4 linked regions of the Homo sapiens genome follow. The protein of the gene in region 2 interacts with the protein of the main gene of each other region in a biochemical or structural test. Each region holds a gene or a part of one and is shown on either strand. Other genes may lie near its edges. The genes, in order: ASPG, SGK1, MAPKAP1 and NDRG1.

What was found.
Region 1: the proteins of SGK1 (region 2) and ASPG form a complex in vitro, tested with the Homo sapiens proteins (one study listed by BioGRID).
Region 3: the proteins of SGK1 (region 2) and MAPKAP1 form a complex in vitro, tested with the Homo sapiens proteins (one study listed by BioGRID).
Region 4: of the proteins of SGK1 (region 2) and NDRG1, one has a biochemical effect on the other in vitro, tested with the Homo sapiens proteins (one study listed by BioGRID).

The regions. Positions count from the first base shown.
Region 1 is NC_000014.9:104,102,687-104,109,706, reverse strand, and holds part of ASPG (60 kDa lysophospholipase), read right to left. Parts: intron 6,145-7,020; coding exon 6,032-6,144; intron 5,404-6,031; coding exon 5,221-5,403; intron 5,086-5,220; coding exon 4,972-5,085; intron 4,380-4,971; coding exon 4,257-4,379; intron 2,909-4,256; coding exon 2,813-2,908; intron 2,526-2,812; coding exon 2,362-2,525; intron 1,310-2,361; coding exon of another isoform or gene 1,213-1,309; intron 1,006-1,212; coding exon of another isoform or gene 865-1,005; intron 479-864; coding exon 392-478; intron 1-391. UniProt on the Homo sapiens protein: Exhibits lysophospholipase, transacylase, PAF acetylhydrolase and asparaginase activities.
Region 2 is NC_000006.12:134,315,108-134,322,707, reverse strand, and holds the start of SGK1 (serine/threonine-protein kinase Sgk1), read left to right. Parts: upstream 1-4,595; 5' UTR 4,596-5,247; coding exon 5,248-5,316; intron 5,317-7,600. UniProt on the Homo sapiens protein: Serine/threonine-protein kinase which is involved in the regulation of a wide variety of ion channels, membrane transporters, cellular enzymes, transcription factors, neuronal excitability, cell growth, proliferation, survival, migration and apoptosis.
Region 3 is NC_000009.12:125,704,193-125,711,944, forward strand, and holds the start of MAPKAP1 (target of rapamycin complex 2 subunit MAPKAP1), read right to left. Parts: upstream 3,017-7,752; 5' UTR 2,779-3,016; intron 1-2,778. UniProt on the Homo sapiens protein: Component of the mechanistic target of rapamycin complex 2 (mTORC2), which transduces signals from growth factors to pathways involved in proliferation, cytoskeletal organization, lipogenesis and anabolic output.
Region 4 is NC_000008.11:133,287,240-133,294,259, forward strand, and holds part of NDRG1 (protein NDRG1), read right to left. Parts: intron 1-7,020. UniProt on the Homo sapiens protein: Stress-responsive protein involved in hormone responses, cell growth, and differentiation. Acts as a tumor suppressor in many cell types. Necessary but not sufficient for p53/TP53-mediated caspase activation and apoptosis.

The sequences.
Region 1 (7,020 bases), on a different chromosome or scaffold from region 2:
AACCTCCCCAAATGCAGCCCCAGCCACCCCCCAGTCCACACCCCAGCCCCTCTCACACCCGACAACCAATTCCCATACCCCTCCTCAAGCCCACCACACACACACACATGCACCCACACACATGCATACACACATGCACACATGTGCACACAGAGACACCCTTGCTGGACTGTTCGCTCAGCTGAGAACAACTCCTTCCCCTGCCCCATGACATGGTCCAGGGTAGACACCTCTTCCCATCAGCCAGGTTGGTGCACACTGAGGTCAGCGGGCCTCGCCTCTGAAAGCCCCCACACCCTGACTCACTTGTCCCTCCCAGCAGGTCTGGCTTCGCTTCCCCAAGCTGTGTCCCCCACATCCCTGGAAGAGCAGGTGCTCTAGCTGCACTCACCTGCACAGCTCCGTCCCTGCTTCCTCCAGCTCCTGGGTGGACAGGGAGGCCCCGGCTTCCCGCAGCAACCCAATGACACCCGGATGCCTGTGTGAGAATGAGCATGCTGACCTTCTGCCCTGGCCAGCCCAGCCCCGCTGCACCTCACTCAGGAGCCAGCAGAGCTCATGTCCTGTGCACAGGGACGGGGACCGGCCGGCCCAAGACCCCACAGCCCTAGCCTCAGACAAGGGCCCATCCCCCCATCCTCTGCCTAGGCCCATGTGACATCATCCCGGGATCCCACCACCTCCATTTGTCCAGTACTCCTTCTTAGGGCAGCTGAGGTCTGCAAGGGGTGGGGTCAACTCTGTGGCAGCCCCGCACCCAGCACCCAGGGGAGGGCATTAGTTGGTGCTAGCAGAATAGCTCCTCCCAGGGCAGTCTCCCCAACCCATTCCAAGGGGACAGCCCATTTCAGAGGACAGCCTTACATGAGCTGACCGGCCCCACTGCACACCCAAACGCTGATCACACCCCGTGGTGACCTCCTCAGCCAGGCGCAGGGGACACTGAATCAATCCGGCCGACTGCCCTTGGGTAGGAGTGGGGGCAGGGCACCCGGACAGTGGAGTCTGTGGGGGTGGGGTCGGGGCTCTAGCAAGGAGGAGCAGAGGCACAAAGGCCCGAGGCCGGAGGCCACACAGCCCATTGTACAGGGTGACCTAAAGACTGTGCCATAATCGCTGGCCGTGCCCCCACCCCTGCAAAGCACCACAGATCCCCCCATCACCCCATTTAGGGAGCCTGGGAATAGGTATGAGGCAGTGGCCTCCCCATACCCCACTCAGGCACAGCAGGGCCAGGCAGGCGGCCTCAGGGAGCCTGGCAGCGGAGCGAGGCTGGGAGACCGGTTGGGGGCGTGCTGTGAGCCTGGTCCTGTGAGTCAGGAGGAGACGAGGGGGCGGGACTGTGTGAGCTCGTCTCCGCGCCACCCACCCACACCCAAGGACGCCCAGTCTAGAAGCTCCAGTCCGGATCACCCCAGCCCTGCTCGGGGGGACCCTCACAGCCCCGCCCCCTCCTGTCCACCACCCTGTTCTCTCCTATTCTTTTGAGCACCCTGTCAATGATCACAGGAGGCTGGAAAGAACCTTCTACCCCAGTCACCCACTTCACAAAAGGTGCCACACCCCACCCCAGGGCTCACCGCTTCACCGCTGGGGAGGGGAACCCACAACTGAACACGTCAGGGTCACATGACCCCAGGCTCAGACACCCCGGCCTTCTCTCCATGGGACTCCTGAGCACTCCCTCCCCGAAAAGAACCCAGGGTCCTGCAGGCCAAGTCCTCCCACCCACAGGGAGGAATCCCCAGGGGCCCTGGGATCTCTGAGCAGCCCATGGGTCCGGGCAGCGGCACCAGCAGACAGGTCGTTGGCCTTCCCAGGCTGGGGCAATAAAGAGTAGGAAGGGGAGACGGGACGCAGATCCCACCAGTGCTGGCCCCGCCCCCCACGCAGGGGCACAGGCACACACTCCGTCTCTGCTGCTGCTCTGGACTTTGGGAAGAGACACCAGCCAGGGCTTGCTTGGTGGGGCAGGGGACCCCCACACGCACAGGCTGGGCCTGTCCTCCAGGGCCCGAGTTGCCTGTCACAGCCCCAGATCTGCTGCCACGTAGCCTGCTTTTTATTGACCGCGTCTGGCTGCTGGGCCAGGACCTTCTGCCCCACCTCCACCCCAGCCCCCCATACCCACAGGTGCACAGAGATGCACCGTGTCCTCCCAGCTTTGTCCACAACATTTTTGTTTTCTAGGAACTCTGGGCCGGGGTCTTACTGGGCCCCGGGCTGCGGGGGCAGCCTTTAGGAAGCAGGTGTCCTCCACCTCTCCCAGCCCAGCCCCGGGAGGCTGTTTGAGTGCAGGAGCCCACAGCCTCTCTGCGCCCACCTGTCCAAGGCAGCTCTGTGCAGCCCTAGCTCCATTACCTGCCCCGCACGGCCAGCAGCAGCGGGCTGAAGCCATCCGTGTCCCGGGTGTTCACGTCCACACCTCTCTGCAGCAGCATGGTGACTGCCTCTGTGTGGCCTCCCCGGGCGGCCGCGTGCAGTGGGGTTTGGCCGTTAAAGTCCACCAGGCCCAGGTCACTGCCCTGGAGTAACACAAGGACATGCGACCCCTGAGGGAGACCCAGGCGGGGCCAGGTAGGCCATGGGGAGGGTGGGGTCCCTCTGAGGGTAGGGCCCAGCACAGCCCCTGCGCCCACCCTCAAAGCCTCAGTGAGACCTGACAAGCTGGCAGGACAGTCCTGCTGCCCAGTCTGGCTGACAAGGGCTTAGTGTGGTCAGTGGGTGGATGAAAGGCCGTCCTGCCTACAGGGTTCAGAGCCCCCAGGCCAGGCGTGGCTGGGGCTGGGCCCCCAGGGTGGGGGAGGCTCACCAGCTCCACAAGCGCCTGCAGCGCCTCCACGTCACCGGCGTGGGCAGCAGCACAGGCCAGGCTGGGCACCAGGGCATTCCGCAGGGCATCTGCCTCCTAGGTGGGGAAGGCGGCACCCTGGGACCCACGCCTCCCTTTGGCATCTGGTGGAACTGGCAGTCCCCGGTGCTGTATGACCCCTGCCAGCCCCCACACAAGGGCCCGCAGATCCCAGGGCGTGGGTGAGAAGGAACCTGAGCTGCCACATCGGAAGGCCTGGGGTTGAGCCTCACCACCCCACCCCATCCAGGCCCACCTAGGACCCCTTCCCCTGGAGCTAAGGCCAGGCCACGAGACCACCATCCAGCCCTGTCCCCAACGGGTGTGTGGCCAGTACCTGCTACCCACCCTCCCAGACTCCCCCGTCTGCTCCCACCGCCGTCGGGACGGAATGGTCACCCACATAAGGAGAGCGTGGGAAGCAGAGCCAGACCCCTCCCCTGGAAGGAAGGCCCTGTTCCCACGGCTGCACCTTCCCAGAAGAGCCACCTGCCCCCAGCACCGGGCACCAGGAGCTCCCCAAGACGCCAAAAGGCCGCGGTCCTGGCAGAGGCCCCACAGGGGCCACCACACCCAGCGGTCCTGGCAGAGGCCCCACAGGTGCCACCACACCCAGCGGGTACAACGTGGCCTGGTGACAAGGCTGCTGCCTCTGGCCTGCCTCCCTACAGCATTCAGGCCCTATGCAGCCACCCTAATAACAGGCCATGCACGCCAGTCCTTTCCATCTGCCCATCACCCGCCCCAGCAAGTGGCAGTTCCAGCACATGGCTCACAAGACAGGTCCATCCCTGTAGGGGGAAACCGAGGCACTGAGGCCGGGGCAGGACCCCACACAGTGGGGAGCAAGGCTGTCTGGCCTGCCAGGCCCCATGTCAGGCCTGGATGTTTGGCCCAGCAGCCAAGGGGGCATGTTGCGGGGTCCAGGGAGGCCCCATCCCCCTGCAGACCCCAGGCCTCGAAAGCCCCCCTTCCTAGGTCTGGGCACCTCAGTTGTGCAGGGGACGTGCTCAAAGGCTGGCCCTCACCTCCGGGTTCCTCACCTGGAACCCCTGGTGCTCAGAGCCTGGGAGAGCCCAGAGCAAGCACCGCCCCCACTCACCCGCCCTTCTTCTGGACAGGCAGCTCCCGAGGCAGCCCCGCACTAAGGCAGCGCCGCCAGTCAGAAGGCCTCCCTGCTGTGTGCCCACCGCCTGGCCCTTCCTGCCTCCTGCCTTATAGACCCTGCAAACCTTCCTTGCTGCAGACCCCAAACCCTCCTCCTGGGCCCCAGAACCCGGGTGTGCCTAACTGTTTGGGCTCGAGTGATGGCTACAGGGGCTCGTGCCTGCCTGGTGCATCCCAGGGTGACCAAGAGGGTGCACAGTCCCCAGCTGCCACTCAGGCCCGTGTCCCACGCCATTACCTGGCTGCCGCTCAGACTGAGGAGCCAGGAGACCCCACCGCCCAGCGTGTTGCCCTGCAGTGAGGGCCGGCGCTCTTCCACCGAGGGTGGCGTCATCTCCCCCCGAAGGTCCTTGGTCAGCAGCTGGTGGAGAGAACAGAGGTGAAGTGGCTCTGCCAGGGCTGGATGGGCAGCCCAGGACAGCCTGGAGGGTCGGGCTACCCGGGCACAGTCAGGGGTTGCCCTTGGCCTGAGCCTCGGCCGTGTGTGCTTCATCCCTCGGGCCAGAGCGGGCTGGGTCCCCTCCCAAGGCCAGCCCCACTCCCTGGCCCTACCAGCTCAGGGTCTCCAGGGGCCCCAAAAGCCTCCGTCCAGCCCCAGAGGCTGGCAACCCAAGGGTCTGGGGCCAGCTGTGTCTGAACCCCACCCTCGAGGAAGAGTGGAGAGCAGGAGAGGATTTCCTGGCGACAGTTAGGGGAGCCTCAGGTCTCCATGCAGTCTGAGAAGGCACAAGGACAGGCGGAGCCTGGGCTGGGAGTCCAGTGAGGGCTGTGGGGAGCCTGGGCCCAGAGCTGCCCTTCCCCACTATAGGGAGCCACATCCCTCCCCTTCCCAAACAGGACACACCCTGGACCGGCCCCCAGGCTCTTCCGGCATCGCCCCAGACATGCCCCTGGGAGCCAACTGACATGCTTGTGCACACCGAGGGTTGCCCACAGCCCGAGAGCGCCCGCACCTCCTTCCTGACATCCAGGCTCAGCCCTGGCTGGCCCAGCACATACGATAGCTTGGCCAGGGCGGCCTCCGATGTCATGTCGAAGCCTGAGATGACGCCGGCTCCCGCCATGGCCTGTGAGGAGGGGGCGTGTGGGCAGGAAGGGCGACTCACCACGGCCCCCAGCCCATGAGGGGTGGGTCAGAGCCCACCTCTGCCAGGCCCTCAGGCTGTCCCCTTCCCCGCTAGGCCCTGATCTCCCGGCACTACCATGCCAGCTGCATAGTCTGTGGTCACAGCCCCCTGGAGGCAGTGGGTACAGTTGACGATGACCAGGCCGCGCTCGGTGGCCACCCGCAGCTCCTGCAGCAGGTCGGGCTTGGTGGGTCCGTTCCCTGAACCGAAGGTCTCCATGACCACGCCCTTCAGGGGAGGCTGCAAGAAGGCCCGAACCTGTGGGGCGGTGGGGTGGGGGCTGGATGGTGAGGGTCTCTGCCCTCAGCACCACTGAGACTCGCCCCATGCCCTCCCAAGGAGAGGGACCCCAAGCCAGGGGCAGCTGGTGCCTGCTCTGCTCCCGGGACAGTGGGGCTCCTGGCAGACGTGCATGGCTGCTGGCACCTGGAGGGGGCTGCTCCCCCCACATTCTCCCAAAGGGTCGCCCTGTCTGTAGGGACGAAGGCTTTGTGTGGCAGAACGCCGTGGAAACACTTCAGAGAGGTGGGAGAGGAGCCAAGAAGGCCATCAGAGGCCCCAGAGCAAACACCCTTGTCCAGCACAGCAGGGGCGGCTCCCAGCCAGCTGGAATCTGCGGGAGGACGCTGCCTCTAGAAAAGCATGGAGGACCCCGTTCTGGCTGTGAGCCGCGCCCCAACCCTGCCCACTCCCCGAGAGGCTGGAAAGCACCACGACGGAGGACAGGGGACAGGGCCTGGGGCTGGTGGGGCCACACTGCAGACATCTCAGGTCCACGCGGGGTCTGCACTGGCTGGTGAGGGCCCCAGGGAGCCTGAGGGCCGTGGGAGCTGCAGAGGGCTGGGGCTCAGGGCTGCAGGGGCAGGATGGCCGGGGCGGTCCCTACCAGGGCGGCAGGGATCCCAGGGTAGAGGCGCAGCAGGCCCACGTCCTGCTCCATGCTGCTGTGCACCACCAGCCCAGCCTTCCCGTCCACCTTCCGCACCAGCTCCCTGTTGACTGAGGACAGGGAAGGGCCTGTGTGGTGCCTTCAGGCCTCCTGCCAGCCGAGACCCCAGCCCAGTGCCTGGCCCTCTGCACAGGCCGCCTCCTCCCTTGTTTTCAGAGCCCTGAGCCTTCGCGGCTCAGCCCCCTCGCCCTGCCTCCTCTCCCGCAGGCAAATCCTCCCGGGCTTCCGCGCAGTCCGGCCTGTGCCAGGCTCCGCAGCGTGCACGGGGCTGTGGGAGGAGGCACTCGTTGGCCAGCGAGAGACCGATGGCCGAGCAATGGGCAACACAGTCTCAAGGGTGAAGCCCAGGGAAACTCCGCTGGCCAGGCGAGGGGCAGGAGGGTCCTGCAGAGATGGAGGCCCGGCTGTGTCTTGCAGGCCGCATGGGGGCGTCAGGCGAGCGCAGAGGCGAGGAGGGCAGGCATGCCCAGCTGGGGAGCCACCAGCAGTCACTGCGCTGGGTTACAGGCATGGGGCAGCATCGTCGAACCAGCCAGCCTCCTCTGCCCCTTGCCAGGCACCCACTGTGCCCACTGCCCACCGGGTCAGTGGTTGAATGAGCGAACAAATGGACTTTCGGACCCCTCACCTCTGGGGAGAGAAGGCCTCCATCCAGTTCACCCCAAAATCCTAATGTGTGCCCATCACCCCCTCCCCACACCCAGGGTGGGTGATGGTGGAGGTGCAGGCCCCAGGTGAAGTGGGGAGGGATGGCTATTTGGGGTCAGTGCCCCTTGAACCCGTCCATGCAGAGGGGCTCCCCAGAGGACATGCTTGTCCTCGAGCTGAAGGCCGCCACTCTGGCAGCAATTGAGCCCCCAGGGTTCTGCCGACTTTCCCGCTCCATGTGGGTGGGGGTGGGAGGCTGATGCCACAGGCCCGGCCCC
Region 2 (7,600 bases):
TAGCTGGGCATGGTGACACGCACCTGTAATCTCAGCTACTCGGGAGGCAGAGGTGGAATGATCGCTTGAGCCCAGGAGGTTGAGGCTGCAGTGAGTCATGATCACACCACTGCATTCCAGCCTGGGTGACAGAGAGAGACCCTTTCTCAAAAAAGCAAATAAAATAAAATTAAAAAGGGTCTTTTGCATGTACAAAAACAAACCCATAATCCCCAGCAGGGTTTCCTAATTCTTCATTAAATACATCACTACCACTGTGGCTGGAGTTTTAAGCATATGATCGAGTCACTCAGGCCAAAAAGGAATGTAAAACATTTCTCATGAGGTGATGTATTTTTATCCCTTTCTCCTTAGGGACATTTGTCACTAAACAGATACTTTATTGTTTGTTATCTTTTGTGTATTCTGGGGTGCTATCGAAAAAAATTACATTCCATTCAACAACTAAATGTATCACACAAAAACACTTTAATCTATGGGAAGATAGACTTTCTAAAAAGTATTACAGTGGCATATGCCTCTTGCTTTAGTGAAACAAAGAAATGTAGAGTTATTTATTACTTTGCAAAACCCTTTCAAATATAATTTGGTACTGACAATTCCTTTAGGAGGTAGGTGAAGAAGCATTTTATTATTATTATTTTACAGATGAAGAAACTGAGGCTTAGTGCGTTGAGGGAACTTGTTGAAGGTTGCACAATTAGGGAATGGAAGTGAGGTAGAAGATGTTCCAAATCAATACAGCAGTCTTTCCACCGCAGGTACATATTGGTAGTTAGTCCTACCTAGCTACTTTATTTTATTCTTTGTGTGACAGCCTAAACAATATTGTTGGGAGGAAAAGTAGGTATACCACAAAAAAATCAAATAGAGGTTCAAGGGATTCTTTTTGTTTGTTTGTTTATTTATTTATTTATTTTGAGAGAGTCTTGCTCTGTTGCCCAGGCTAAAGTGCAGTGGAACAACCATGTCTCACTGCAGCCTCAACTTCCCAGGGTCAAGCAATCCTTCCACCTAAGCCTCCTAAACAGCTGGACCACAGGCATGCATCACCACACCACCTATTTTTTTTCCTTTTTGTAGAAATGGGGCTTTGCTATGTTGCCAGGCTGGTCTCAAACTCCTGGGCTCAAGTTATCCTCCTACCTCGGCCTCCCAAATTGTTGGCATTATAGGCATGAGCCACTGTGCCTGGCCCAAGGGATTATTTTTAACATTGGGATTTTCCATCAAAAAGAAGTGTCATCCCAGGGCTACAGTGTCATTGAGGCTTAAAGAGGAAATGGTGAGGAGTGAGGTCGTTTGCTCTTACTGGAGCTCAGCATATTGGCTATCATGGGAGAGAGCTTAATGACTGAAGAATCTTAAAGGTATTTAATGATTCCTGCAAATGGTCTGGTGCCAGGGTCACTGATGTCAGCTATACTTACTTTTGTATTTAATTCGTTTGAAAACCATTTGTTGAGTGCTAGCATGGCCCAGGCACTCCGCTGTGTGCTGGTGCTACAAAAATAAATAAGTGTGTTTTATGGGAACAAGAAGTGAGTTAATTAATTAAATTAAGTTTGATTTATAAACAAGATGTTGCATGAGTCCAGAGTTTTTTTTTTTATTATTATAAGCAGGAGCCTGTGCTCCTTTATAGGTATCAACAGTGGACCTGTCAAAGGAAACATTTAGTAAACAGTAGTCACTCTGGGCTTACCTGAGGGCAGCTTTACTTATGAAAATAGAGGTCAGAGTGAGATGAAAGATGCCTTCTTTTCCTGAATAACCAACACAGTGCAGTTAATGCATTTCTCTATTATTGCACCAATCAAAAGATAATCCAAAATAATTGGCTGTCAGATATAGTCAGAATCCCTGCCCTATACTTCTCTTCCTTCATCTGACTGACCTACTCATTCTTTAAGGCCATGCACTAACATCATCCCTTTAGGTAAATTTCCTGGACCTCTCTTACCCATCCAGCCCCACCCTTCCCCCCTCCAAATTAAGGCAGGGTTGATGCATACACACCACACACACACACACACACACACACACACACACACACACAGAGTAGTACACTCTTATCCATGGGGGATACATTCCAAGACCCCCCCCATGGATGCGTGAAACTTCAGATAGTACCAAACTCCATATACATTATGTTTTTTCCTGTACATACATACCTATAATAAAGTTTAATTTATAAATCAAGCACAGTAAGAGATTAACAACAATAGTAGAATAATTTTAACAATGTACGATAATAAAAATGATGTGACTGTGGTCTCTCTCTGTGTCTCTAAAAGTATCGTATTGTACTCACTGATTTTCAGACCATTGTTGACCTTAGGTAACTGAAACTGTGGAAGGTAAAACCTCAGATAAGGGAGGACTACTGTATATAGTATTCTTACCACACTGTATATTTCTCTACTAGGCTGTGAGTTCCTTGGTGACAAAAACCAGTGACACTTACATGCACTGGACCTTCCATAGGATCTAGCATAGACCAAGTGACAGTGGCAGCATCTTCAAGAGGTGGCATGGAGTGAGGGAAAAGATAGCATTTAGCTTGTCTTCTCCTCCCTCATAATCTCTATTAACCACCCGCCTGCACCCCAAATGAACATACATCCTACATGAAACCAGGGTATTAGTCCGTTCTCACACTGCTAATAAAGACATAGTGAGATGGGTAATTTATACAGGAAAGAGGTTTAATTGACTCACAGTTCAGCATGGCTGGGGAGGCCTCAGGAAACTTACAATCAGAGCAGAAGGGGAAGCAAACACATTCTTCTTCACATGGCATCAGGAAGGGGAAGTGCTGAGCAAAAGGGAGAAAAGCCCCTTATAAAACCATCAGATCTCATGAGAAATCACTCACTGTGGGAACTACAATTCAAGACGAGATTTGGGTGGGGACACAGCCAAATGATATCAACCAGTATGCATGCTAGGCCAATGTGGGATTAAGCAAAGCCCCAGCACCTCCTTCCTAGCAGAGTGCTTAAAGGTCCCCTCCTGTATATTACTCAAATTCAATAAATGTCTGTTAAAACACTTTTGGGGGAGTGGCAATGGGACGAAAAAGAAAGAACTTGAATGACCATCATTTTTTAAAATGAGGTCCATTGAGGTATAATTTACATGCAGCAAAAGTTTCCCTTTTCCTATATAAAATTTGATGAGTTCTGACAAATGCATAGTTATGTAACCACCACCATCATCATGATAGAGAACACTTCCATCGTCTCAAAATAATTCCCTTTGAACTACCATAATTTTAAATGAACTCTTTAGAAGAACCACAAAAACTTATCAATGTTGTAGATTACATAACATATACTTGCATCTTGGACAACTTAACATATCTCTCCAAAATGAATAGTTGTTTTCCCTTGGTTATCATGCCATCATTTAGTTGTATTGCATTTTCTTTTTGGAAACCTCAAGGCATTTAGCAAACAGGATTTCATGTTTATTCCCAAAAACTCTGGCCCAACTGTAGAGATTTATAGTCCAATTCAATGAAACCCATGCATTTCTTTCCCAGTTTAACCTGATGTTTCTCTTCTTACCAGAGACTTCCATGTAAATACTTTAACAATGTTAGGTGTGTTATATATAATGAGGTCATAATCAGTTTCAAATTAGCATTGCGCCTTTCACTTATTTATCAATTATATTCCCTTGTGATGATTATGAAAAGGCTCCACATCCTGAGGACACTTGTCAGAGTTAGATTTATTAATGGAATGAAATAGCAAATAATGAATGACTAAATAAATGAATGAGTGAATGAATGAATGAGTGGCTGCCTCCATTTTATGGATGAGGCAGTGTCCGAAAGGCACAGTGAGGTCAGGTGATGGCAGAAAGCCACACACCGATGTTGGTGGCTTTCTGCCAGGTCAGATGCCAAGTTTATTTTCTTTGCTTTCTTGCTTTACTATCAACTAATCTTTAAAATCATTCCCATAAAATATCAACATTAAAGAATAAAAATGGAAAAATAAGCCACATACAATTAAATGGCTTTTTTAAAAGGAGCTCAGTGTGCAAAGGATAACATGAGTAAGGATTTTTTGGGAAATTTTTCACCTAATAGGAAGAATGCTTTACTCTTTTATTTATCAAACCTTCCTCATCATTAAATGGATTCAGTAGTACTTTTTGGTAATAACTCGTGTGTGTGTGTATGTGTGTAATAAAGTACTTTGTATATGTTCATTGTGTTCTTTTTTTAATAAGCTGTTTTAATGAAAAAGACACAATTACCGTCACCATTGCCCACTATATAATGACAAGTAGGGGAGGGGAGGCTAAAAGAGCTTCTACATAGTGAGAGATCTTCCATTGTTATACCTACGCTTGCACTTTATTTCATTTTCTTCCACGTTTGGACAGGTCGAGATTAAATGTGATTACATTTCCGTTGAGAGGCTTTTATTCAGCAACAGGATTCAAAAGAATGTCAATGAGCATAAAATAAAAACGGTGTGCAATTTATATGAAACTCTGATTTAAATGGTCCTAACCAAAAAAAAAAAAAAAGAAAGAAAGAAAAGAAGCTATTTAAAGTAACCCTCCCAAGGGGAGTCAACTGCTCTTCAGTGTGCCCTGAGCCGGCTGTGCCTTCTCTCCATCCGCTGCTCAGATATTCATGAACCGTTGCTTCTTCCAGCCTCGCCTTCTCGCTCCCTCTGCCTTTCTGGCGCTGTTCTCCCTCCCTCCCTCTGGCTTCTGCTCTTTCTTACTCCTTCTCTCAGCTGCTTAACTACAGCTCCCACTGGAACTTGCACAATCAAAAACAACTCTCCTCTCTCAAGCCGCCTCCAGGAGCGCATCACCTGGAGAAGAGCGACTCGCTCCCCGCGCCGGCCGCGGAAGAGCAGCCAGGTAGCTGGGGGCGGGGAGGCGTACCCTTCTCCCGCTCGGTAAGAGCCACAGCATCTCCCCGGAGATTGGCCGTATCCCACCGTCCGGCCCCCAGGGTCCTGCAGCGGTGATGCATATGTTTCGGAGCAATGATGGAAGGAGAAAAGCCGCTGTCGGTGGCAACTGAAAGTGGGGAGAGGTTGCTGCAGTAGCTGGTGCTGCAGAATGCGCGAGTGAAGAACTGAGCCCCGCTAGATTCTCCATCCCGCTCAGTCTTCATTAACTGTCTGCAGGAGGTAAACCGGGGAAACAGATATGCACTAACCAGGCGGGTGCCAACCTGGATCTATAACTGTGAATTCCCCACGGTGGAAAATGGTAAACAAAGACATGAATGGATTCCCAGTCAAGAAATGCTCAGCCTTCCAATTTTTTAAGAAGCGGGTAAGGACAGGTTTTGCTTATTTCTTTTGTTTTCTGTGCTTCTCTTAAATGCTTTTGAATGTTTGCCTGAAGTAAGCCTGAGGTTTTGTTGCTAAACCCTTAATGTAAGCCGTGCTTCTGATGGCAGTGGTAAAGCTGAGAACTATACCTGACTTGATTAGAATTTGTTGGAGGAGGGGCAGGGGGCTATGAAGAGTTGCATTGGGAGGAGGGGGTTGGGCTGAGATGCCTTAAACGGGTTTGAGCTGGGAATGGGGATTTTTCTCTCTCAAGCCACAACAAAGATTACAAGGCAGTCGCAAAGAGAACTGGCTTGAGTACAATTATGGCTAGTAATTTAGTCAGGGGCTAATTTAGCAGCTTCCTCTCATCTTTGAAGGGTTCAACTTTTCTACACCTTTCATCCACTCAGTCTCAAGTGATGCATTATCATCTTCGTTCGTCAGAAGCAGCAGCTTCTGGTTTCCCAAATCCATTCAGCCAATAATTTGCTGTGTCTCTATCTGTGGTATAAATAGCAAAGGAGTAGAATGACCTTTTACAGAAATGATGGAATCCAGCATTTAAAATTGTCTATTTTAAGTTGCCTCAATTTTTGCTTTTGCTTAGAATAACTGCCTTTTTTTTTTTTTTTTTTTTTTTTTTTTTGGGAGAGAGCAGTGGGAGGTCTGTATTTGAGTGATAATTCAGGGTTATGTTGCTGTATGCATTTATTTCTTAAACTCCTTATTCTTCAACTCAAAGTATGAATAATGTTGCATTGGTTGTAGGTGAGAAAAAAGGATTTTTTTGCATGTATATTTCACAATAAACTCAGTTCACTGGGATGGCCACACTGGTGGTCTGTGTAAATCTGCAAATTTATACACAAGCGGGAGGTAAGAAATGAATGATTGTTAAAGGAATGACACTGACACTCTTAAGGACAGTGTTTCCTAAGCAACGTAAGAGAAGGAACATCCTCCAGTCCCCAGTTGCCCCATCCTATTTAATACCCTAGGGCAATTCCACCAAAATGGTTCTCTCCATTCATTCCTCCTTCCTTTCATTCAGGTCCTTTCTGTGCCACTCCTGAAACACAGCCCTTCAGTTAACTCATCCGCAGAACACAGTGAATTTCAGGGTGGGCTGGACTATCTCCCTGCACCAAATGGGCAAGCTGGGAAGGCAAGGCTAGAAATGCAGGCAACATGTCAGGCCCAGCTAGAGGGCCAGCGAAGGCTCCCAAGCACCCTTGACTGAGTTCTCATCAGTAAAGCAAAATCTTTCTCCAAGTCTGTGGGCCAAAGCATATGCATTCAAACCAAAATGAAACCAACCTGTCCTGGCCCCTGCTCTTGGAGTGGGAGTACCATGTGAAATCTCACTAGTGAGCTGCAAGCTAAGTGAAAGCAAGTCAGTGCAACTTCACAGAGCTCCACAAGGCTTCTTAGTTTTTCTCTGTAGCTAAAATATTTCTTTCCAAGGGAAGAGCCCTTTATGAAAATTAATTTTCTTTCTTTCTTTTTCTTTTTTTTAGAGACGGGGTCTTGCTATATTGCCCAGGGTGGTCTTGACCTTTTGGGCTCAAGTGGTCCTCCTGCCTCAGCCTCCCAAATTGCTGGGATTACAGATGTCCACCACCAGGCCCAGCCCTAATTTTCAATAATAAACAAATGTTTTGCTAATTTTAAAAATGCCATAGCCCATTATCCAGTATTTAAACTCTATTGCCTTTTAATTACTGTATTTATTTCATGGTATTGGGGATATTCTAAAACTCCTCAGTCAGATGTTCTTAAGCAATGTAGATTTAAGTTACATAAATTTTAAATTGTCTTTTATTTTCTTTGTTATCAAAATGTACTAATAGAAATACTAATTTGCCATTTGGTTTTGTTTTGCTTAAAAGCAAGTTTACCAATAGACTTCAGTTGGTGACTCTGCAGACCTTGAATTTTGCAGAGAACCACCCAGGGTACTGATGTCTTATCTGAGTACATGCAGAAAGAAGTTTCTACCAAGATAACTGGCAGGCAGCTTCATCTAACTTCTAACCTGGGTCTATCAGTTGCTGGAGACAGGATCAGACATCTCTCCTGCCCCTGCGCTCTCCTTACTCCTCAAGGACAGTTAACTAAGTAGAAGGTGACCTTGTATCAAGTCATTGAATGCCCCAGGGATAAATTCTTTGATTTTTGTCTACTTTGGTTTATTCCACAAATTCTGTATTCTAAATGTTTATTTCTGCTTGTACATGACTTTGCTTTTTTTGTTTGTTTGTTTTTAGTTAAACAATATGTAA
Region 3 (7,752 bases), on a different chromosome or scaffold from region 2:
AGTGTTCAGCAGATAATCCCCTCTATCTTACAGCTCTACCAGCAGCATAAACTCAAGGAAGTTATTCAAGGTCTCTGTGCCCCAGTTTCCTCATCTGTAAAATCAGGATGCTAATAACACCTTCTCACACGAGAAAAAAATGAGATAAAGCATTTAACATCACACCAGCAGAGTAAGTACTCATTACCTACCATCATCAGTGTTTCCTTCTCAGTGTTCTATGGTACCTCCTGGGGACTTCTACCTTAGAACCCACAGTACTTTATTATGGTTCACCTGCACACACACAGACATCTCCTCTACTAGAATGTCAATAACCTCAGGATAGGGACCCAATTTTACTTCTTTTTGTATCCCCAAGGTCTAACATTTTGCTTGGCACTGCTGAAATGAATCGTAGATCCTCGAAGTATTTATTAACTGGAAAAGTTATTAGCAGAAACTGGAATTTACCTCCCTTGCCTGGTACTCAAGCCCTCACTGACTCTGACCCCTACCGCCCCTCCAACTTTACGTCCTTGTACCCTGCTAAAAGAAGCAATGACTTGCATGACTCAGGCTGTAAACTCACTCACCAGTCTAAAACCATGCCTCAAGCATTATACCTTTGTATCTTATAGCTATTTATTTCGGGGGACTTTACCACGTACCAGGCCCTTTATCCCCATTAGTTCAATAAATATTCACAACACTCCATGTGGTCAATATTATTCCCTAACCCAACCCCTAGTTGAAGAAAGTGATGCTTGGAGTTATGTGTCGAAGGTCACATATCCTGTAAGAACAGGGACCAGGAATTGAATCCAGAGTCCATGCCTATTTTCTATAGACTGTCTTCTCTGCTCATATTCAAAGCTGAGCTAACTAACCTACCTGCCATCTCCTTGCCTTGGAAGAGCACAGTCTTTACATTTAAAAGATTTCTGTACCATTCATTTTAACATTCATATGTTTTGTCCTATATAACTTTTGGTTTCAATATGTACTTGCATAAAAAGAGGGAGATGATGTGAGAAAAAGGCAAGACATGTAATGGAAAAAGCACAGATTTAGGCATCAGACAGACCTGGGTTTGAATCCTGGCTCTGTCTCCTACCAGCTGTGTAATTTATTATGGGTCTTCCTAATCTGTAAATTGAGGTTAAAATGATTAAACAATAGAAACCCCTATATAATACCCAAATACTCAAAGTTTAGTTTACCTCAAATTATGAAGCATTACCTGGCCACATCCCATCCCTCAAAGGTGAATAACCCATTCCCCTCCCGCACCTACCACTGTCACAAGAACTCTCACACAATGTACTTATCACGGTGTTAGAATTATTCATTTCCCTTATCTCTCTTTCACTAAATTGAGCTCCCTGGCAGCAAAGACTGAATCTTATATTTATCTCTAATTGCCTAGCATGGTACCTGGCATATATATACATATCCATATTCAGTAAACATTTGCTAAGTTAAATAATTGTAGATAAAAATGAGCGCTTATAGAATTCTAGAGGAAAAATCATTTCCAGGTGGGGTTGTCCTGAATTGGTTGGGTGAGGCCAACTCAGCTGAGCCGTGGGAAGCGTCTCAATAGACTGAAAGAGAAAAGGGGAAACCTAGGCAAGGTAGGGAGAATGTTCTACAAAAATCAATGGAATAGGAAAGAACAAAAATGATTAGAGATCCTACTTATTCAGAGTAATGGATCAGGATGGGGTAATTAAAGAAGGAGACCTTTTCAAGCATAACTGGAAAGGTAACCAGGAGCCAGATTAGGAGATGTAAGGGGGTGTAAGTGCAGTCTGGGACACACAGTAGTTGAAGGTAGGCATGAGCACACAGATGAATGGGAAAGGGCTACCAGCATGCCCCAAATCCCGCAGGTGTGTAAACTGAAAAACATGAAAACAATTATTGCTTCATCAAGAACTCTTTCCGTGTTTACTAGGTACCTTGTGTGGGCTCATAAAATATAAGGAATAAAACCCATATCTAGGCTTCTGCTCAAGTGGGTTTTAACATTACGGATCCACCTCTCCTGCTTGTCAGAGAATGAGAACGCTGCTTTTTTTAAACCAATGGGTCTCCATTTGACTCTTCACACCTGGGAAAGTTTTGAACTTTGCCGATTTGGGTTTATAACAACATGGTGCTTTGTACAGTGCCAGGTACTGTGGTGGGCTTCCAAAGTGACTTTCATTCATTCAAAAGGAAGTTTTAACCAATTTCTGAGTCAATTTGGGGGTCTCTGGTTAAAGTCATAATCTTGTTTACGCTACAATCTCTTTTTCCCAGCCTTAAACAAATCTAAATGACTCCTTGCCACTCCCATAAACAAAGAATGAATCAAAGTTCCAGCAGCACTGTAGCTAGAAAAAAGTCTGTAAGGCTGTTAACCTCTTTAAGGGGGAGGGGGAGAAGGGACGCAAGGAAACAAGGACCACACAGTCAATGCTTGAAAACCTTGATTTTCACATTATGAAGACCAGGGCACCTAGATATTGCCAAGTGCAGGCCCAGAAACTGCCGGAGTCAACTACACCCCCCACCCCCACACTACCAGGTCAGCTGGCTTCTTTTCCCCTAAACCACACACCCGCCTCAGACTCCTGACAGCCTCCAGTTCTGGAAATGGCCAGGAAACGAACGCGCCCGGGCCACCTGAACAAGGGCCCGGCAGGCGGCCCGCCGGGCAGCGCTGAAACTGGAGGGGTGAGAGGGCCGCCAGGTGGGCAAGCTGGTGGGCTGACGGACGGGCGGGGAGCTGGCGGCTGGGGCAACCTTTACCTGAAGCTGCTTCCACACTACGGGCCGGGTCGGCCCCGGGACACGTTCCTGAGGGGAGGGCCCGGCTCCCCCACGCCTCCCGGCCCCTGCCCCGAGCTCTGCACTCTCGGGATCCACGGGGACCGGCGCTCCTCCCGGCCCGCTCAGCTGCCGCTTCCCGGGTTAGCCCTCATGCCCCTGCTGCTCGCCGCCGCCGGCCGGCCGAGCAGCAGCCCTATTACCCCGAGCCGCACACGACCCGGAACCACACCCCGGCGTTCCGGAAGTCCCCGACCGGGAAGGAGCCTCTGGCTGGGGACGTAGTGCGCAAGCCCCAGAGCTGAAAGCAAGGAGCGGTAGCTTCCCGCGGGGCGGGGCCGGGAGGGAGGCCGGGCGCATGCGCGCCGCTTCTCCAGTGCAGGGAAAGGCCTGGGTCGGAGACTGAGTTCTGGCAAGATGCGCCAGTGCCTGGACTTGCCTTGAGCAGGAATCAGTGTTAGGCTTCTCCATCGAATCTTCTTTCTCCCCATTTCCACGGAGAAAAGCCCTTAGTTCGTCCAGAAATGAGTGATGAGGCAGCTCAGCCTCTCTGAGAAAGACCTGGGTTCAAATGCCAGCTCTTATAACTTGCTGTGTGTCCTAGGATGTGACACTTCTCTCTGAGCCTCGGGTTTTCCCATCCAGGGCAATAGTTTCAACTTTAGAGTATATTGCTGTGGGAATCGAATGGGATGATGCTTGAAAAACACCCAGCATAGTGCCTGACACATAGTAAACATGCAGTCAATGTTAGTTATTTCTCTTATTATAATATCTGTAATATGGAGGTGACAATAATCTTCCTCAAGCCCTGCTGGGAGGTTTCCAGGAGATGTAGGAGGACTGGCACAGGGCAGAAGTTCAGTGTGTCTCATGCTGCTCCCTTCCTCTCTCACGGAGGAAATCAGTAGAGAAAGCCACGATGAAGGGGGAAAAAGGATTCAGGGAGTGCAGTGAGAGTGGTTCTCCCACCTGAAAGATGCTTGGGGAAGTCTCTCAAAAACGCACCTTAGCAAAAGAAAAAACTCAAGGTTGAATTTCAGCCCTGAGGGACCCCTGCCCAATTTTAAACTTATTAATAAATATGCCATGGGGCCAGGCACGGTGGCTCACACCTGTAATCCCAGCACTTTGGGAGGCCGAGGAGGGCAGATCACTTGAGATCAGGAGTTCGAGACCAGCCTGGCCAACATGGTGAAACCCTGTCTCTACTAAAAATACAAAAATTAGTCTGGCGTGGTGGTGTGCACCTGTAGTCCCAGCTACTCAGGAGACTGAGGCAGGAGAATGGCTTGAACCCGGGAGGCAGAGGTTGCAGTGACCCAAGATCAGGCCACTGCACTCCAGCCTGGGTGACAGAGACTCTGTCTCAAAACAAAAAAACAAAAAACACGGTGGGTCTACCCATGTATTTCAAATATGGTCATCCATCACTTAATGATGAGGACACAAGAAATGCATCGTTAGCTGATTTTGTGGTTGTGTAAACATCATAGACTGTACTTACACAATGTCAGAGCCTACTACACACCTAGGCTGTTTGGTATTAGCCTATTGCTTCTAGGCTGCACACCTGTACAGCATGTTACTGTACCATATACTGTAGGCAATTCTAACACAATGGTATTTGTGTATCTAAACATCTCTAAATGCAGAAAAGGTACAATTAAAAGACCATGTTATAATCTTAGGGGACCACCATCATATGCACTCTGTCATTGACCAAAACATCCTCATTCCACGCATGACCATATGTGATTGATCTCTTACTACATCCCATTACTTTATGTAATTGGTATCTTACCACATATCTATACTGGGGGAATAGTGCACCTCAGCACCCAGACACACTCTTGCACACACACCACCACAGTTCCATCAGGGACCTGTCAGAGGCACTCTAACAAAGCAGCAGGTGTGAACAAGTTTGGATATTTGATTTTCTGAGGTCACCAGGTTATCTGTTCCTTCCTAAATCTTACTCTCCATTTTCCTCTCTCTCTCTCTCGAGTTCCAATCTGAAGCACAGCTGCCTGACTGTCTCCTAGACACATAAAACTCGACCTATCTAAAACTGCTAAGCAGTTATAGATTCTAAAGAGTAAATATTTCCTAGCACTTTGAGAGACCAAGGCAGGAAGATCATCTGAGCCCAGGAGTTCAAGACCAGCCTAGGCAACATGGTGAGACCCCATCACTACCTTAAAAAATTTATCTCTATATAGGCCGGGCACGGTGGCTCATGCCTGTAATCCCAGCACTTTGGGAGGCCAAGGGGTGCGGATCACAAGGTCAGAAGATCAAGACCATCCTGTCTTAACATGGTGAAACCCTGTCTCTACTAAAAAAAAAAAAAAAAAAATACGAAAAATTAGCCAGGCATGTGGCACACACCTGTAGTCCCAGCTACTTGAGAGGCTGAGGCAGGAGAATCGCTTGAACCTGGGAGGTGAAGGTTGCAGTGAGCACACCACTGCAGCCCAGCCTGGACAACAGAGTGAGAGTCTGTCTCAAAAAAATAAAAAATAAAAAAATATATATATACACACACATATACACATATATTTTTTTTAGCCAGGTGTGGTGGTGAATGCCTGTAGTCCTAGCTGCTTGGGAGGCTGAGATGGGATGATTGCTTGAGCCCTGGGAGGTCAAGGCTGCAGTGAGACGTGATCATGCCACTGCACTCCAGCCTGGATGAAAGAGCAATGCCCTGTCTTGAAAAAAAAATTAGAAAAATAAAAAGTGAATACTCACTCTGCCACTTACAAGTTTTGTGACTTCATCTCTCCAAGTTGCTTCTCTAAATATTCTTATCTTTACCTGGAAAATGGGAATGACAGAAGTCCTACATAACCTCATTAGTTTGTTGCAAGGATAGAATGACCTAATACATGTAGCTTACATATAACAGAGCCTGGCATGTGACTATTATTTACTAATGCCTACCAGTATGAGTATACCTCAGTCAGTAAGCAATACTTATTGAGTGCCTATTGAGATTCAGTGGTGAAAAAGCCAGACGGGGACCCTACCCTTAAGAAGCCTTGTAGTCAAGTTCGACTATGGGTTTGAAATACTGTAGTTACTGTGGTAAGTTGGCATGCAGTGATATATGGTAGGATTTCAAGGACAGTATTGAGGGCCCAGTTGAGAATGGAGACTAAATGTATGGTGATACTAATATGATGGCTAGTGTGATTATTCTATAGCTAGTTGGAGCAGTCACGATACACACACCCAAAGAATGAGAAGTTGGATTGATCCAAGGAAGGATTTTGCCAGACAGGTGTGATGGGGTCATATCAGCTTTTAAGAGTGCTTAAAACAATGAGCCATAGAAAGTATGCTGGATAGGGAAGCAAGAGAATTCCAGAAAAACAGGTATCACTGGCCTAAAGGTCTCAAATAGATGTAATGGAAGTCACTGATGAAGGAAAGCAGAAGGATGGAGGTTATTGTCACAGATGGATGTTTCAACAAATAACCTCAGAGGAGGAGCCATGTGAGAGGGGGTCCCAGCTAAAGTGGAATGGGGGGAAAATCACTGAAGATGAGATAGTCAAGGAACTGAGATCCTTGTGAACGTCCATCCCAAGATGGTGGACAGACATGGGGTGAAAAGGAAACCAGACGTGCTCCCCATGGCATCTGCAACTGAGGAACAGCACTGGGGAGGTAGATGAGGAGGAGAGAGGAGAAACTAATTGGATGGCATGAGCCTCCAAGAAGCAGGAGTTGTATTGGTGGAAGTGTCATTAAAGCATACATTGACCTGTCTCCTGACCTGGGGTGTACAGTGGTAGGACCATGAGAGCTAACACACATACAAATTTTTTTTTTTTTTTTGAGATGAAGTCTCGCTCTGTCGCCAGGCTAGAGTGCAGTGGCACGATCTCAGCTCACTGTAACCTCCGCCTCCCAGGTTCAAGCCATTCTCCTGTCCCAGCCTCCCGAATAGCTGGGACTACAGGTGCCCGCCACCATACCCGGCAAATTTTTCTATTTTTAGTAGAGACGGGGTTTCACCATGTTGGCCAGGTTGGTCTCGATCTCTTGACCTTGTGGTCTGCCTGCCTCTGCCTCCCAAAGTGCAAGGATTACAGGCGTGAGCCACCACACCCGGCCACAAAAATAACATTTTTACAGCACACTGATGGTGCTGGGCCAGGGGCTGGCTAGGGGACTCCCATAGACATCAGGGCAGCGGGACAGGTACCTGGGCATACCTATGACAATCAGGCTTCACAGCCTTCATCTCCAGCTTGGAAAGGAAGCCATGTTAGGGGGTGGAGGTTCTTTTTCTTCTGGTTCCCGGGACTAGAGAGGGTCAGTGGGCAGAAGTTCAAAAACACCTACTACCGGGCCGGGCGTGGTGGCTCCTGCCTCTAATCCCAACGCTTTGGGAGGCCAAGGCGGGCGGATCATGAGGTCAGGAGATTGAGACCATCCTGGCTAACACGGTTAAACTCCGTCTCTACTAAAAATACAAAAAATTAGCCAGACGAGGTGGCAGGCACCTATAGTCCCAGCTACTGGGGAGGCTGAGGCAGGAGAATGGTGTGAACCTGGGAGGCGGAGCTTGCAGTGAGCCGAGATCATGCCACTGCACTCCAACCTGGGCGACAGAGCGAGACTCTGTCTCAAAAAAATCAAAATAAAACAAAACAAAAACAAAAACAAAAAAAACACCTACTACCTGTGTGGCCTTCAACAAGTTACTTGCCTTTCTTGTGTCTGTTTTCTCATCTAGGTTGTTGTGAGAATTCCATGAGGTACTGCAGAGAGAGTAACTAGAACAGTGCCTGGTATACAGGAGGTGTTGCATAAATGCCAGCTCTTCTGGCCCGGCACGCCAAGATGGGCAGTAAGGATCAGGTCCCTTCACACATTCAGTTTCCTCACAGCCCCTCAAGCCTCAATTGTTGTTTGCCTTTCCACTCAGCAAACTCCAAT
Region 4 (7,020 bases), on a different chromosome or scaffold from region 2:
ACCCCACTCCACCCCAGGACTTGGCTCCCTACAATCTGCCCACTCCCAGCCCCCACGCCACCAGGCTGGCCCTCAAAGAACATCTGAGTTCACGGAAGCAGGATGGAAAACTCAGGATTTATTCAGAGGTTTCTACCCACTAGGTTCTATGTGCCCAACACAGAGCTCAGAACAAAAATAACACCAGCTATGGTGATGAGACTGGCTATGGGACTCATCTGGGGATCATGAGCAAACAGACCCAGTTCCTGCCCCCACGGAGCTCACAGTCCCGAGGGGACAGGCACTCCCTTGGGCTCACTCATCAGGCTGCATCTGGGCTGTGTCCACTGTCTGTCTGTCCCCCTGGAGGGCAGAGCAGATGCTGTCTGGACAGCATCCAGGACAGCGTCTGTGCCTCCTGGACAGAGATCCTCAGCTCAGCACTGCTGACATTTGGGCCCCACAAGCAGCCTCTGCCTTAGGGGCTGCCCTGAGCACGGGAGGAGGCTCAGCAGCATCCCTGGCCTCTGCCCACCACATGCCCACAGCATACACCCCACGCTGCGACCAGCAAAAGAATCTGCAAACGTTGCCAAATGTCCCCTGGTGCGACATCCACCCTCCTCTGGAATAGCTGATTTTAGTAATTCCTAGTAGGTAACAGTATCCAGAAAATGTCAGTTGGATGCATTCTTATTTAATCTAGTGCATGCGTGCACACACGCACACACACACACACACACTCTCAAATGCACTCACACATTCCCTCACACTGACACACTTGCAAACTTTCATTCTCACACTCAGACATTCTCACATTCACACACTTATACTCACACATACATACATTCTCACAAACACACTCATTCTCACATACTCACACTTTCTTACACACTGATACATTCTCACTTTCATGGACTCTCACATCCACAGTCATTTATACTCACACGCACTCACACGCACACGTGCACTCCCCACCACCTTCATTCACGGAGGAGGGGGCTGGGCCCAAGCGGCTGCCAGCTGTCCTGAGCTCACCCTGCTGGCTGCAGCACAGGGGCTGGAGTGGAGTCAGATCCAATGTTCACACTCTTCCTTCACTCCACTCTCCCCAAAACACTTTTTCTGGGATTCAAAGTCACCACCTGAGAATCATGGAAGGACCCAGTTCTGGCAGAAGCTGCTGTCTTCTGGTGTCTGTGATCTCCTTCTGCCAGCAGGAAATGGCAGGTGATACGTGACCTGGTTTGGCGGCTCGAGCTGGTGCTTCCACTCCTGCTCCCTCCTCCCGGGCACCTGAGGCCCTCACGGCTTAGCAAGTGTGGCAGGTGGAGCCTGTCCCTGGGCTTGAGGTCCTTGCTGGACTCCAGCTCCTGCCCTCCCTCTGCCTCATGCAAAGTCCTAATCACAGAATGTTGGGACCCACTAGAAAGCATCAAAGAGGTCCTCCAGCAGGTGGGGTGGCAAGGCAGGGCCACACACAGCATGGCGGGGGAACCAGGGCTGACTCCTAGCCCACCAGCCCCACCTTTGGAGTGGCTTGGGACTGACAAACCGTGTCTCCATCTCCAAGGCCATCTTTGCTCCCCAAGAAGCACAGAAGAAACCCCTCCAGCAGGTCTCCTTCAGCTAAAACCCAGCTTAGCACCAAAAACAGGGCTCCAGGTCACAGCACCAGCTGCCAGCCTGTATCTTCACTTCTTTTCCCATCCACCTGCCTGGGAGGAATTCCGAGAAGACCAATGCCAGAGAAGCGAAAGGTAGCCAGGAGCTGGGGGAAGGCTTGCAGGCCATGGTGTCACCATTTATTAGCTCTGTGATCCTGCATAATTTATCGAATCTCTTTTTAAAAATGTATTATTCATCTTGTTTTTTAGAGAGACAGGGTCTTGCTATGTTGCCCAGACTGGTCTCAAACTCCTGGGTTCAAGTGATCCTCCTACTCCGGCCTCCTGAGTAGCTGAGATTACAGGCATATGCCACCATGCCTGGCTATCTAACCTCTTTGCCTCAGTTTGCTTGTCTGTCAATGGGCATGCTAACTCCTGCTCCCAATGATCAGCAGTGGGGCTTAAATTCAAGAATGGCATGGAGAATTAAGCAAACAGTTGCTTAATTCATCAACATACTTTCCTTTCAGGGTTGCCTTGGAGATGCCAGGACATCTGTGAGGATGTGGCCTGGGTTTCAGTCCTAGAGTCCCAGCGAGGAGAGGGACACATGGAAAATGCTCAGCAAATGCCACCAAGGTTTCTGATTATCAGGCCCAGTGCGTCACCACTGGGGCCCTTCTCTCCACCAGCACTGTCTGTCAATGAGTAATGAGGGCCCAAGAGGGGCTACACAAATACCCTTCCAGTCCAGCAGACCCAGGAGAGTCAGAGGAGAGCTGGATCACAGGTGCCAGGCAAAGCCAAGGCCAGGATCTGCCCGAGGAAGAAAAGAACGTGACCCGTGACCCTGGGACCTGGGAGGGCAGTGGGCAGAGGCATCTTCAGTAATCCGACACCACTTGAGAACTGTTCAACAGCCCCTGGGGGACTGAGGGGGACACACAGAGCCTGTGATTCCCAAAAACCTCAGTGGGGCAGCAGGAACGCTGGCCTAGGAATCAGGGCATGGGGACCCTGCCACTTTCCTATTCCATGACTCTGAGCAAGTCACTTCCTCTCTGGGCCTTGGTTTCTCCATCTGTAAAGTAGGCACAGTGTACGTCTATGGAGATCACGCTGTCCACAACAAACTTACAGGCAAATGGAAACCCAGGCAGGAAGGTGCTTCACCAAGACAAAAGGGCCACAGGGTCTTACCAAGGCCCTGCCAGGCTCAGCTCTGGCCAGATTAGCCCCGCACCTTGGACCAAGGCCCCCACTTCTGCCAGCCTCAGACTCCTGTCTGTTAAGACTAGTGCCTTGCTCCAGCTCTGCCACCCACCTGCACACCCTCTTGAGCAAACTCTCCTGGGCCCCGCCACAACTCCCACAGGGTGAGGCTGAAGGGGTATCCAGCAGAGAAACATCCATGATCTGTTCTAGAAGTTCCAGGTTCCGCCCACCAGGAAGAGCAGCCACAGGAAGGCAACAATGTAACCCTACACAGACACACCACAAAAACAGCACCAGGAACAGTATCTGTGGCACTAACTGGACTCTAAACCCGGTACTTCCTTTAAGCCTCACAGAAACCCTAGGAGGGAGGTGCCAGCATGTCACCATTTAACAGACGGGGAAACTGAGGCATCAAGAGGTTAAGATGTGTGCCCCAAGTCAGCAAGCATCAAGCTGGCTGCTTTAAGGTTAAAGCAACCTTAAAGGGAATGTTGACAATGATCTCACATTGCCCTAAATATATCCACAGTCCTCACCACCACCCGTGGCCCAGATACAACGTTGTAAGGTGGGCTGCACGTGACCATGAGGCTTTCAGCGTGTGGAGGTCAGCTGGGACAGTCACATGCCTCTCCTCCACCCTGCAGTCACCACTGAGCCATCATGAGCAGGCTTGAGCTTTTGGCAAAACCAGCATCTTGAACTTTTCTCCCTTCACAACACCCAGAAGGTTCTCTGTTTTCAGCTCCCCCATAGTACCTTCCTAAGACGGCCAACTCAATGCTTTGGAAAAGCATTCACTCAGCACACTGTTTCACTTGCTCCTCAAGGAGGTTGCCCCGGGAGAGGCTGGGTATTATACCCAGTTCACAAATGGGTAACCTGAGGCTCAAAAACAAACACAAAGGCCCACTTGACTTCCAAAGGCCACATGTCTAGATTCCTCCCTACTGAGGGAAAGGTGAAAAACTCACTGGTTTGTTGTGGGTGCAGGTGTGGCACTCATTCCCTCGGGGGAGGGCGGACAACAGTCCCCTGGAGGCCTTCAGTGAAGCAGATAAAGGGAGAGCAGGCGGGAATTGCTGACAAGGGTAGCATCGATTGTCACCAACAGCAACTGGCCCAGATTCCACCCTCTGTAACATGCCTGGTTTTAAGGCCACATGAAAGCCAGTGTTCTCTCCAGCACATTGTGCTCTTTATAGAACAGATTTTTAAAAGGAGGGAAAAAATCAACATGTGCTGTGGCTGTTTGCTGTAGCAACTTCCCCAGAAAATTGCCGAGAACAGCACCATTTCTGCCTGAACCTCAAGGAAAACCACCTTGAGATAGGCCCTGGATAGCCCTGCCTTACTGTGGATACAATCCTTTGTCATTTCTTTGCCCAAAGAGATTTTGAAGTCAAGCTACAAAGCAGTTCATGGGCTCTCTTGGTGTTTTCTGGCCCTTCTGAAACTCAAGGCCCTGGGGAGGGTGAGGAAGTTGGCAGTCTTCACGAACTGTCTTTCTTAACTAATCAACTCAGCAAACAATATGGGTGGATTCACTGGACCTTCAAGAAAGTTCCCTAGTTTAGAGGTTAGGGAACTGTATCAGAGCAATCAGAATCAAGGAAACAGTACAAATGTCAGAGAACAAAACCACAGTAGGAACTCCTCGAGGGCCCCTGTACTTTGCAGTGGAGCCTGAAACCCAGGAGGCATCAGTGATGTTTGATATTCAAGGAATGAAAAAGGGATCACTAAGAAGGTGAACCCCACTGTCTCCCTCTCAAACAAGCCAAAGCCGCATTCACTCCCTGGGTGTGGGTCCAGAGGGGCTGGAGCTGAAACTGAACTGCTGTGTGTTCAACTTGAGCACAGCACCAGGGAGGTCAGCAAGAGTGTCCCAAACACAACAGCAGGAAGAGGGAGGTGTCAGGAATCTCGTCAGGGCCCACCTCTTTTCTGCAATACAACCGAGATCTTCCTGGAGATTCTCAGTGGAGTTTTGGCAGCACGAGTAATTTGTTTGGCAGACAGAAGACGACCGTCTGAGGGGACGAGGTGAATAACTGGAAGTCCAAAGGAGGACACTGGTCTCCTTAGAGGATTATTTTGTGAAATTGCAAGACAGGCATGAGCTGCGCTGGATGGTCTGAGATAATTTGTGGAAATCACACAAACGGAGCCAGTGTTAGCAGAGGACGAGGAAATGGCTTCCTCATACAGAACCCTTTGTCCCGAGATGGGATGCTAGCCACGCTAACAGGATCCTTCCCCAGAATGGTCTTGCAGTTTCCACCCTCCGGAATGGGCCTCCGATCTTGTCTATGCAAGATGGTCCAAGTTACTTCCTTAATCAGTGGAGATGTCCTTTCCACCACCACTAACACAACACCTACTAAGGACAGGCTCTCAGGTTTCATGGGAGACATGGACAGGTCCCAGGAAGGACCCAACCCAGCCTCCCCTCCAGCAGAGGACAGCCAAGGAGGCCTTTCTGGAGAAAGGAGGAGAGTTCCATGATTAAAAAGGAGGAAGGAGAGATGGTAAGCATTCCCAGCTGAGAGAGGCCATAGACCCACCTCTTAAATGGCCCTCTCACATCCATATTTGAAGAGGGTTACTTGGAATCTTCTTAGGTTCCGTGGGGGTGGGGCAGAGGGTGAAGGCAGGAGAACAAGGTGGAGACCTGGGCCCCCACCCACCTCTCTTCAAACAGAACTCTATGCAGATTTAAAATGTATAGCTGCAGAAAGTCTCCCCACAGATTTAAAGAAAGGAAAGATTAAACTGCTGGGGAGGGCACTCAAGGCCCCCAGACTGTTAAGGAGCCTCACTTTCTACCAGCTCAGTTGCAAGAAAACCCGCTGGACTCAAAAGGTCAGAGATGGAGCCCAGGCAGGTAGGGCATAGGCAGGTCTGCAAACAATGTTAGGTGGGAAAGTCAAAGATCTGGGTCAAAGAGACCTGCTTATGGCCCCGATTGTGTAATCCATTCCCATTCTGTAGTGCTGGGGCTTACGCCCCACCCGAGGGAGCCCAGGTTTCTTTTCACATGGCCCCCACCCCGAGAACACGGCTCCAGGTTGGCACCTACTCATGGCCCTCTACCTCTGCAGCCGCCTTCCTGTGGGGCCTCAGTGTCCCCAGCCCTTCTGCCTACCTGCCTGGGCTAAGTTCTCAGCCAAGACCGCTATCTAGCCTGCCTCTATCTCCAAGTTGAAAGATAAAAAGCAAGTGGACACGCGGTACTTCCATCACACAGCCATCAAGGGAGGCAGGAACAACAGCCTGGGGTGGATCCAGGAAACAAGCTCCTTCTCAAAAGGTGGGCCCAGAGGGTGTGGGTGGCCTCCAAGCGCAATGTTGGAGGGTGGAAAGGGCTCAGGAGGCTCACCTTGGGCAGAACCCCACTCACTGGACTCTGGACAGAAGAGTCACCAGCCTGAGCCTCAATTTTCTGACCTGAGAGGTGGAAAGAATGTCTTCTACCTCAGTTAGCTGATGTGATGCATTGAACCTCCAAGGCACTATAGCAAACAAGAGCTATTTACTGAGCACTCACTAATTCCCTGGCACTGTGGACACAGGGTGGCCTGAAGGTACAGCGGCATGTATGACTACACCTTCCTTCTTCTCTCCCCTGTCATTCCAGAGCAGAGGTTCTCAACTCTGTCTGCCTGCAGGATACCCCATTCCCAACCCAGCCAAAGGAGCTTTGAAACAACAGCATATCCCCTGATGGAGAGAGAATCGCAGGAGACCGGGCCTGGAAATGTGCATTTCAGACAAGATTTTCATGACACTATTATGCAACCTACATAAGCTTAGCAAAAAGCAATACCTAGGTCAAGCATTTGCAGGCACTTTCACAGCCTTGGGTAGGTTTAGGACAAAGGGTCCCAGACTCTGCCTGCCAAGAAGATGCCTTGAGAATGTCTTCTGCGGGTGCTACTGACGGCAAACACCTACACGCTGTTTTCCACATGCTCAGTGCTGTTCTCAGGTTACACAGATTAATATTTACACATTCTGATGGCATCATGTCTGTTACTCTCATTTTACAGAAAAGCAAACTGAGGCATGGAGCTCCTGACTGCCTTTTCATTTGAGCCTGATTTCTTCAGGCGCCCCAACATGTTGTCATGGAAAAAAAACAAAGGCTCTGAAGTCCAACTGTCCGGGTTCAAAGTCTGGCTCTCCCACCTGAGCCATATGGCAACAG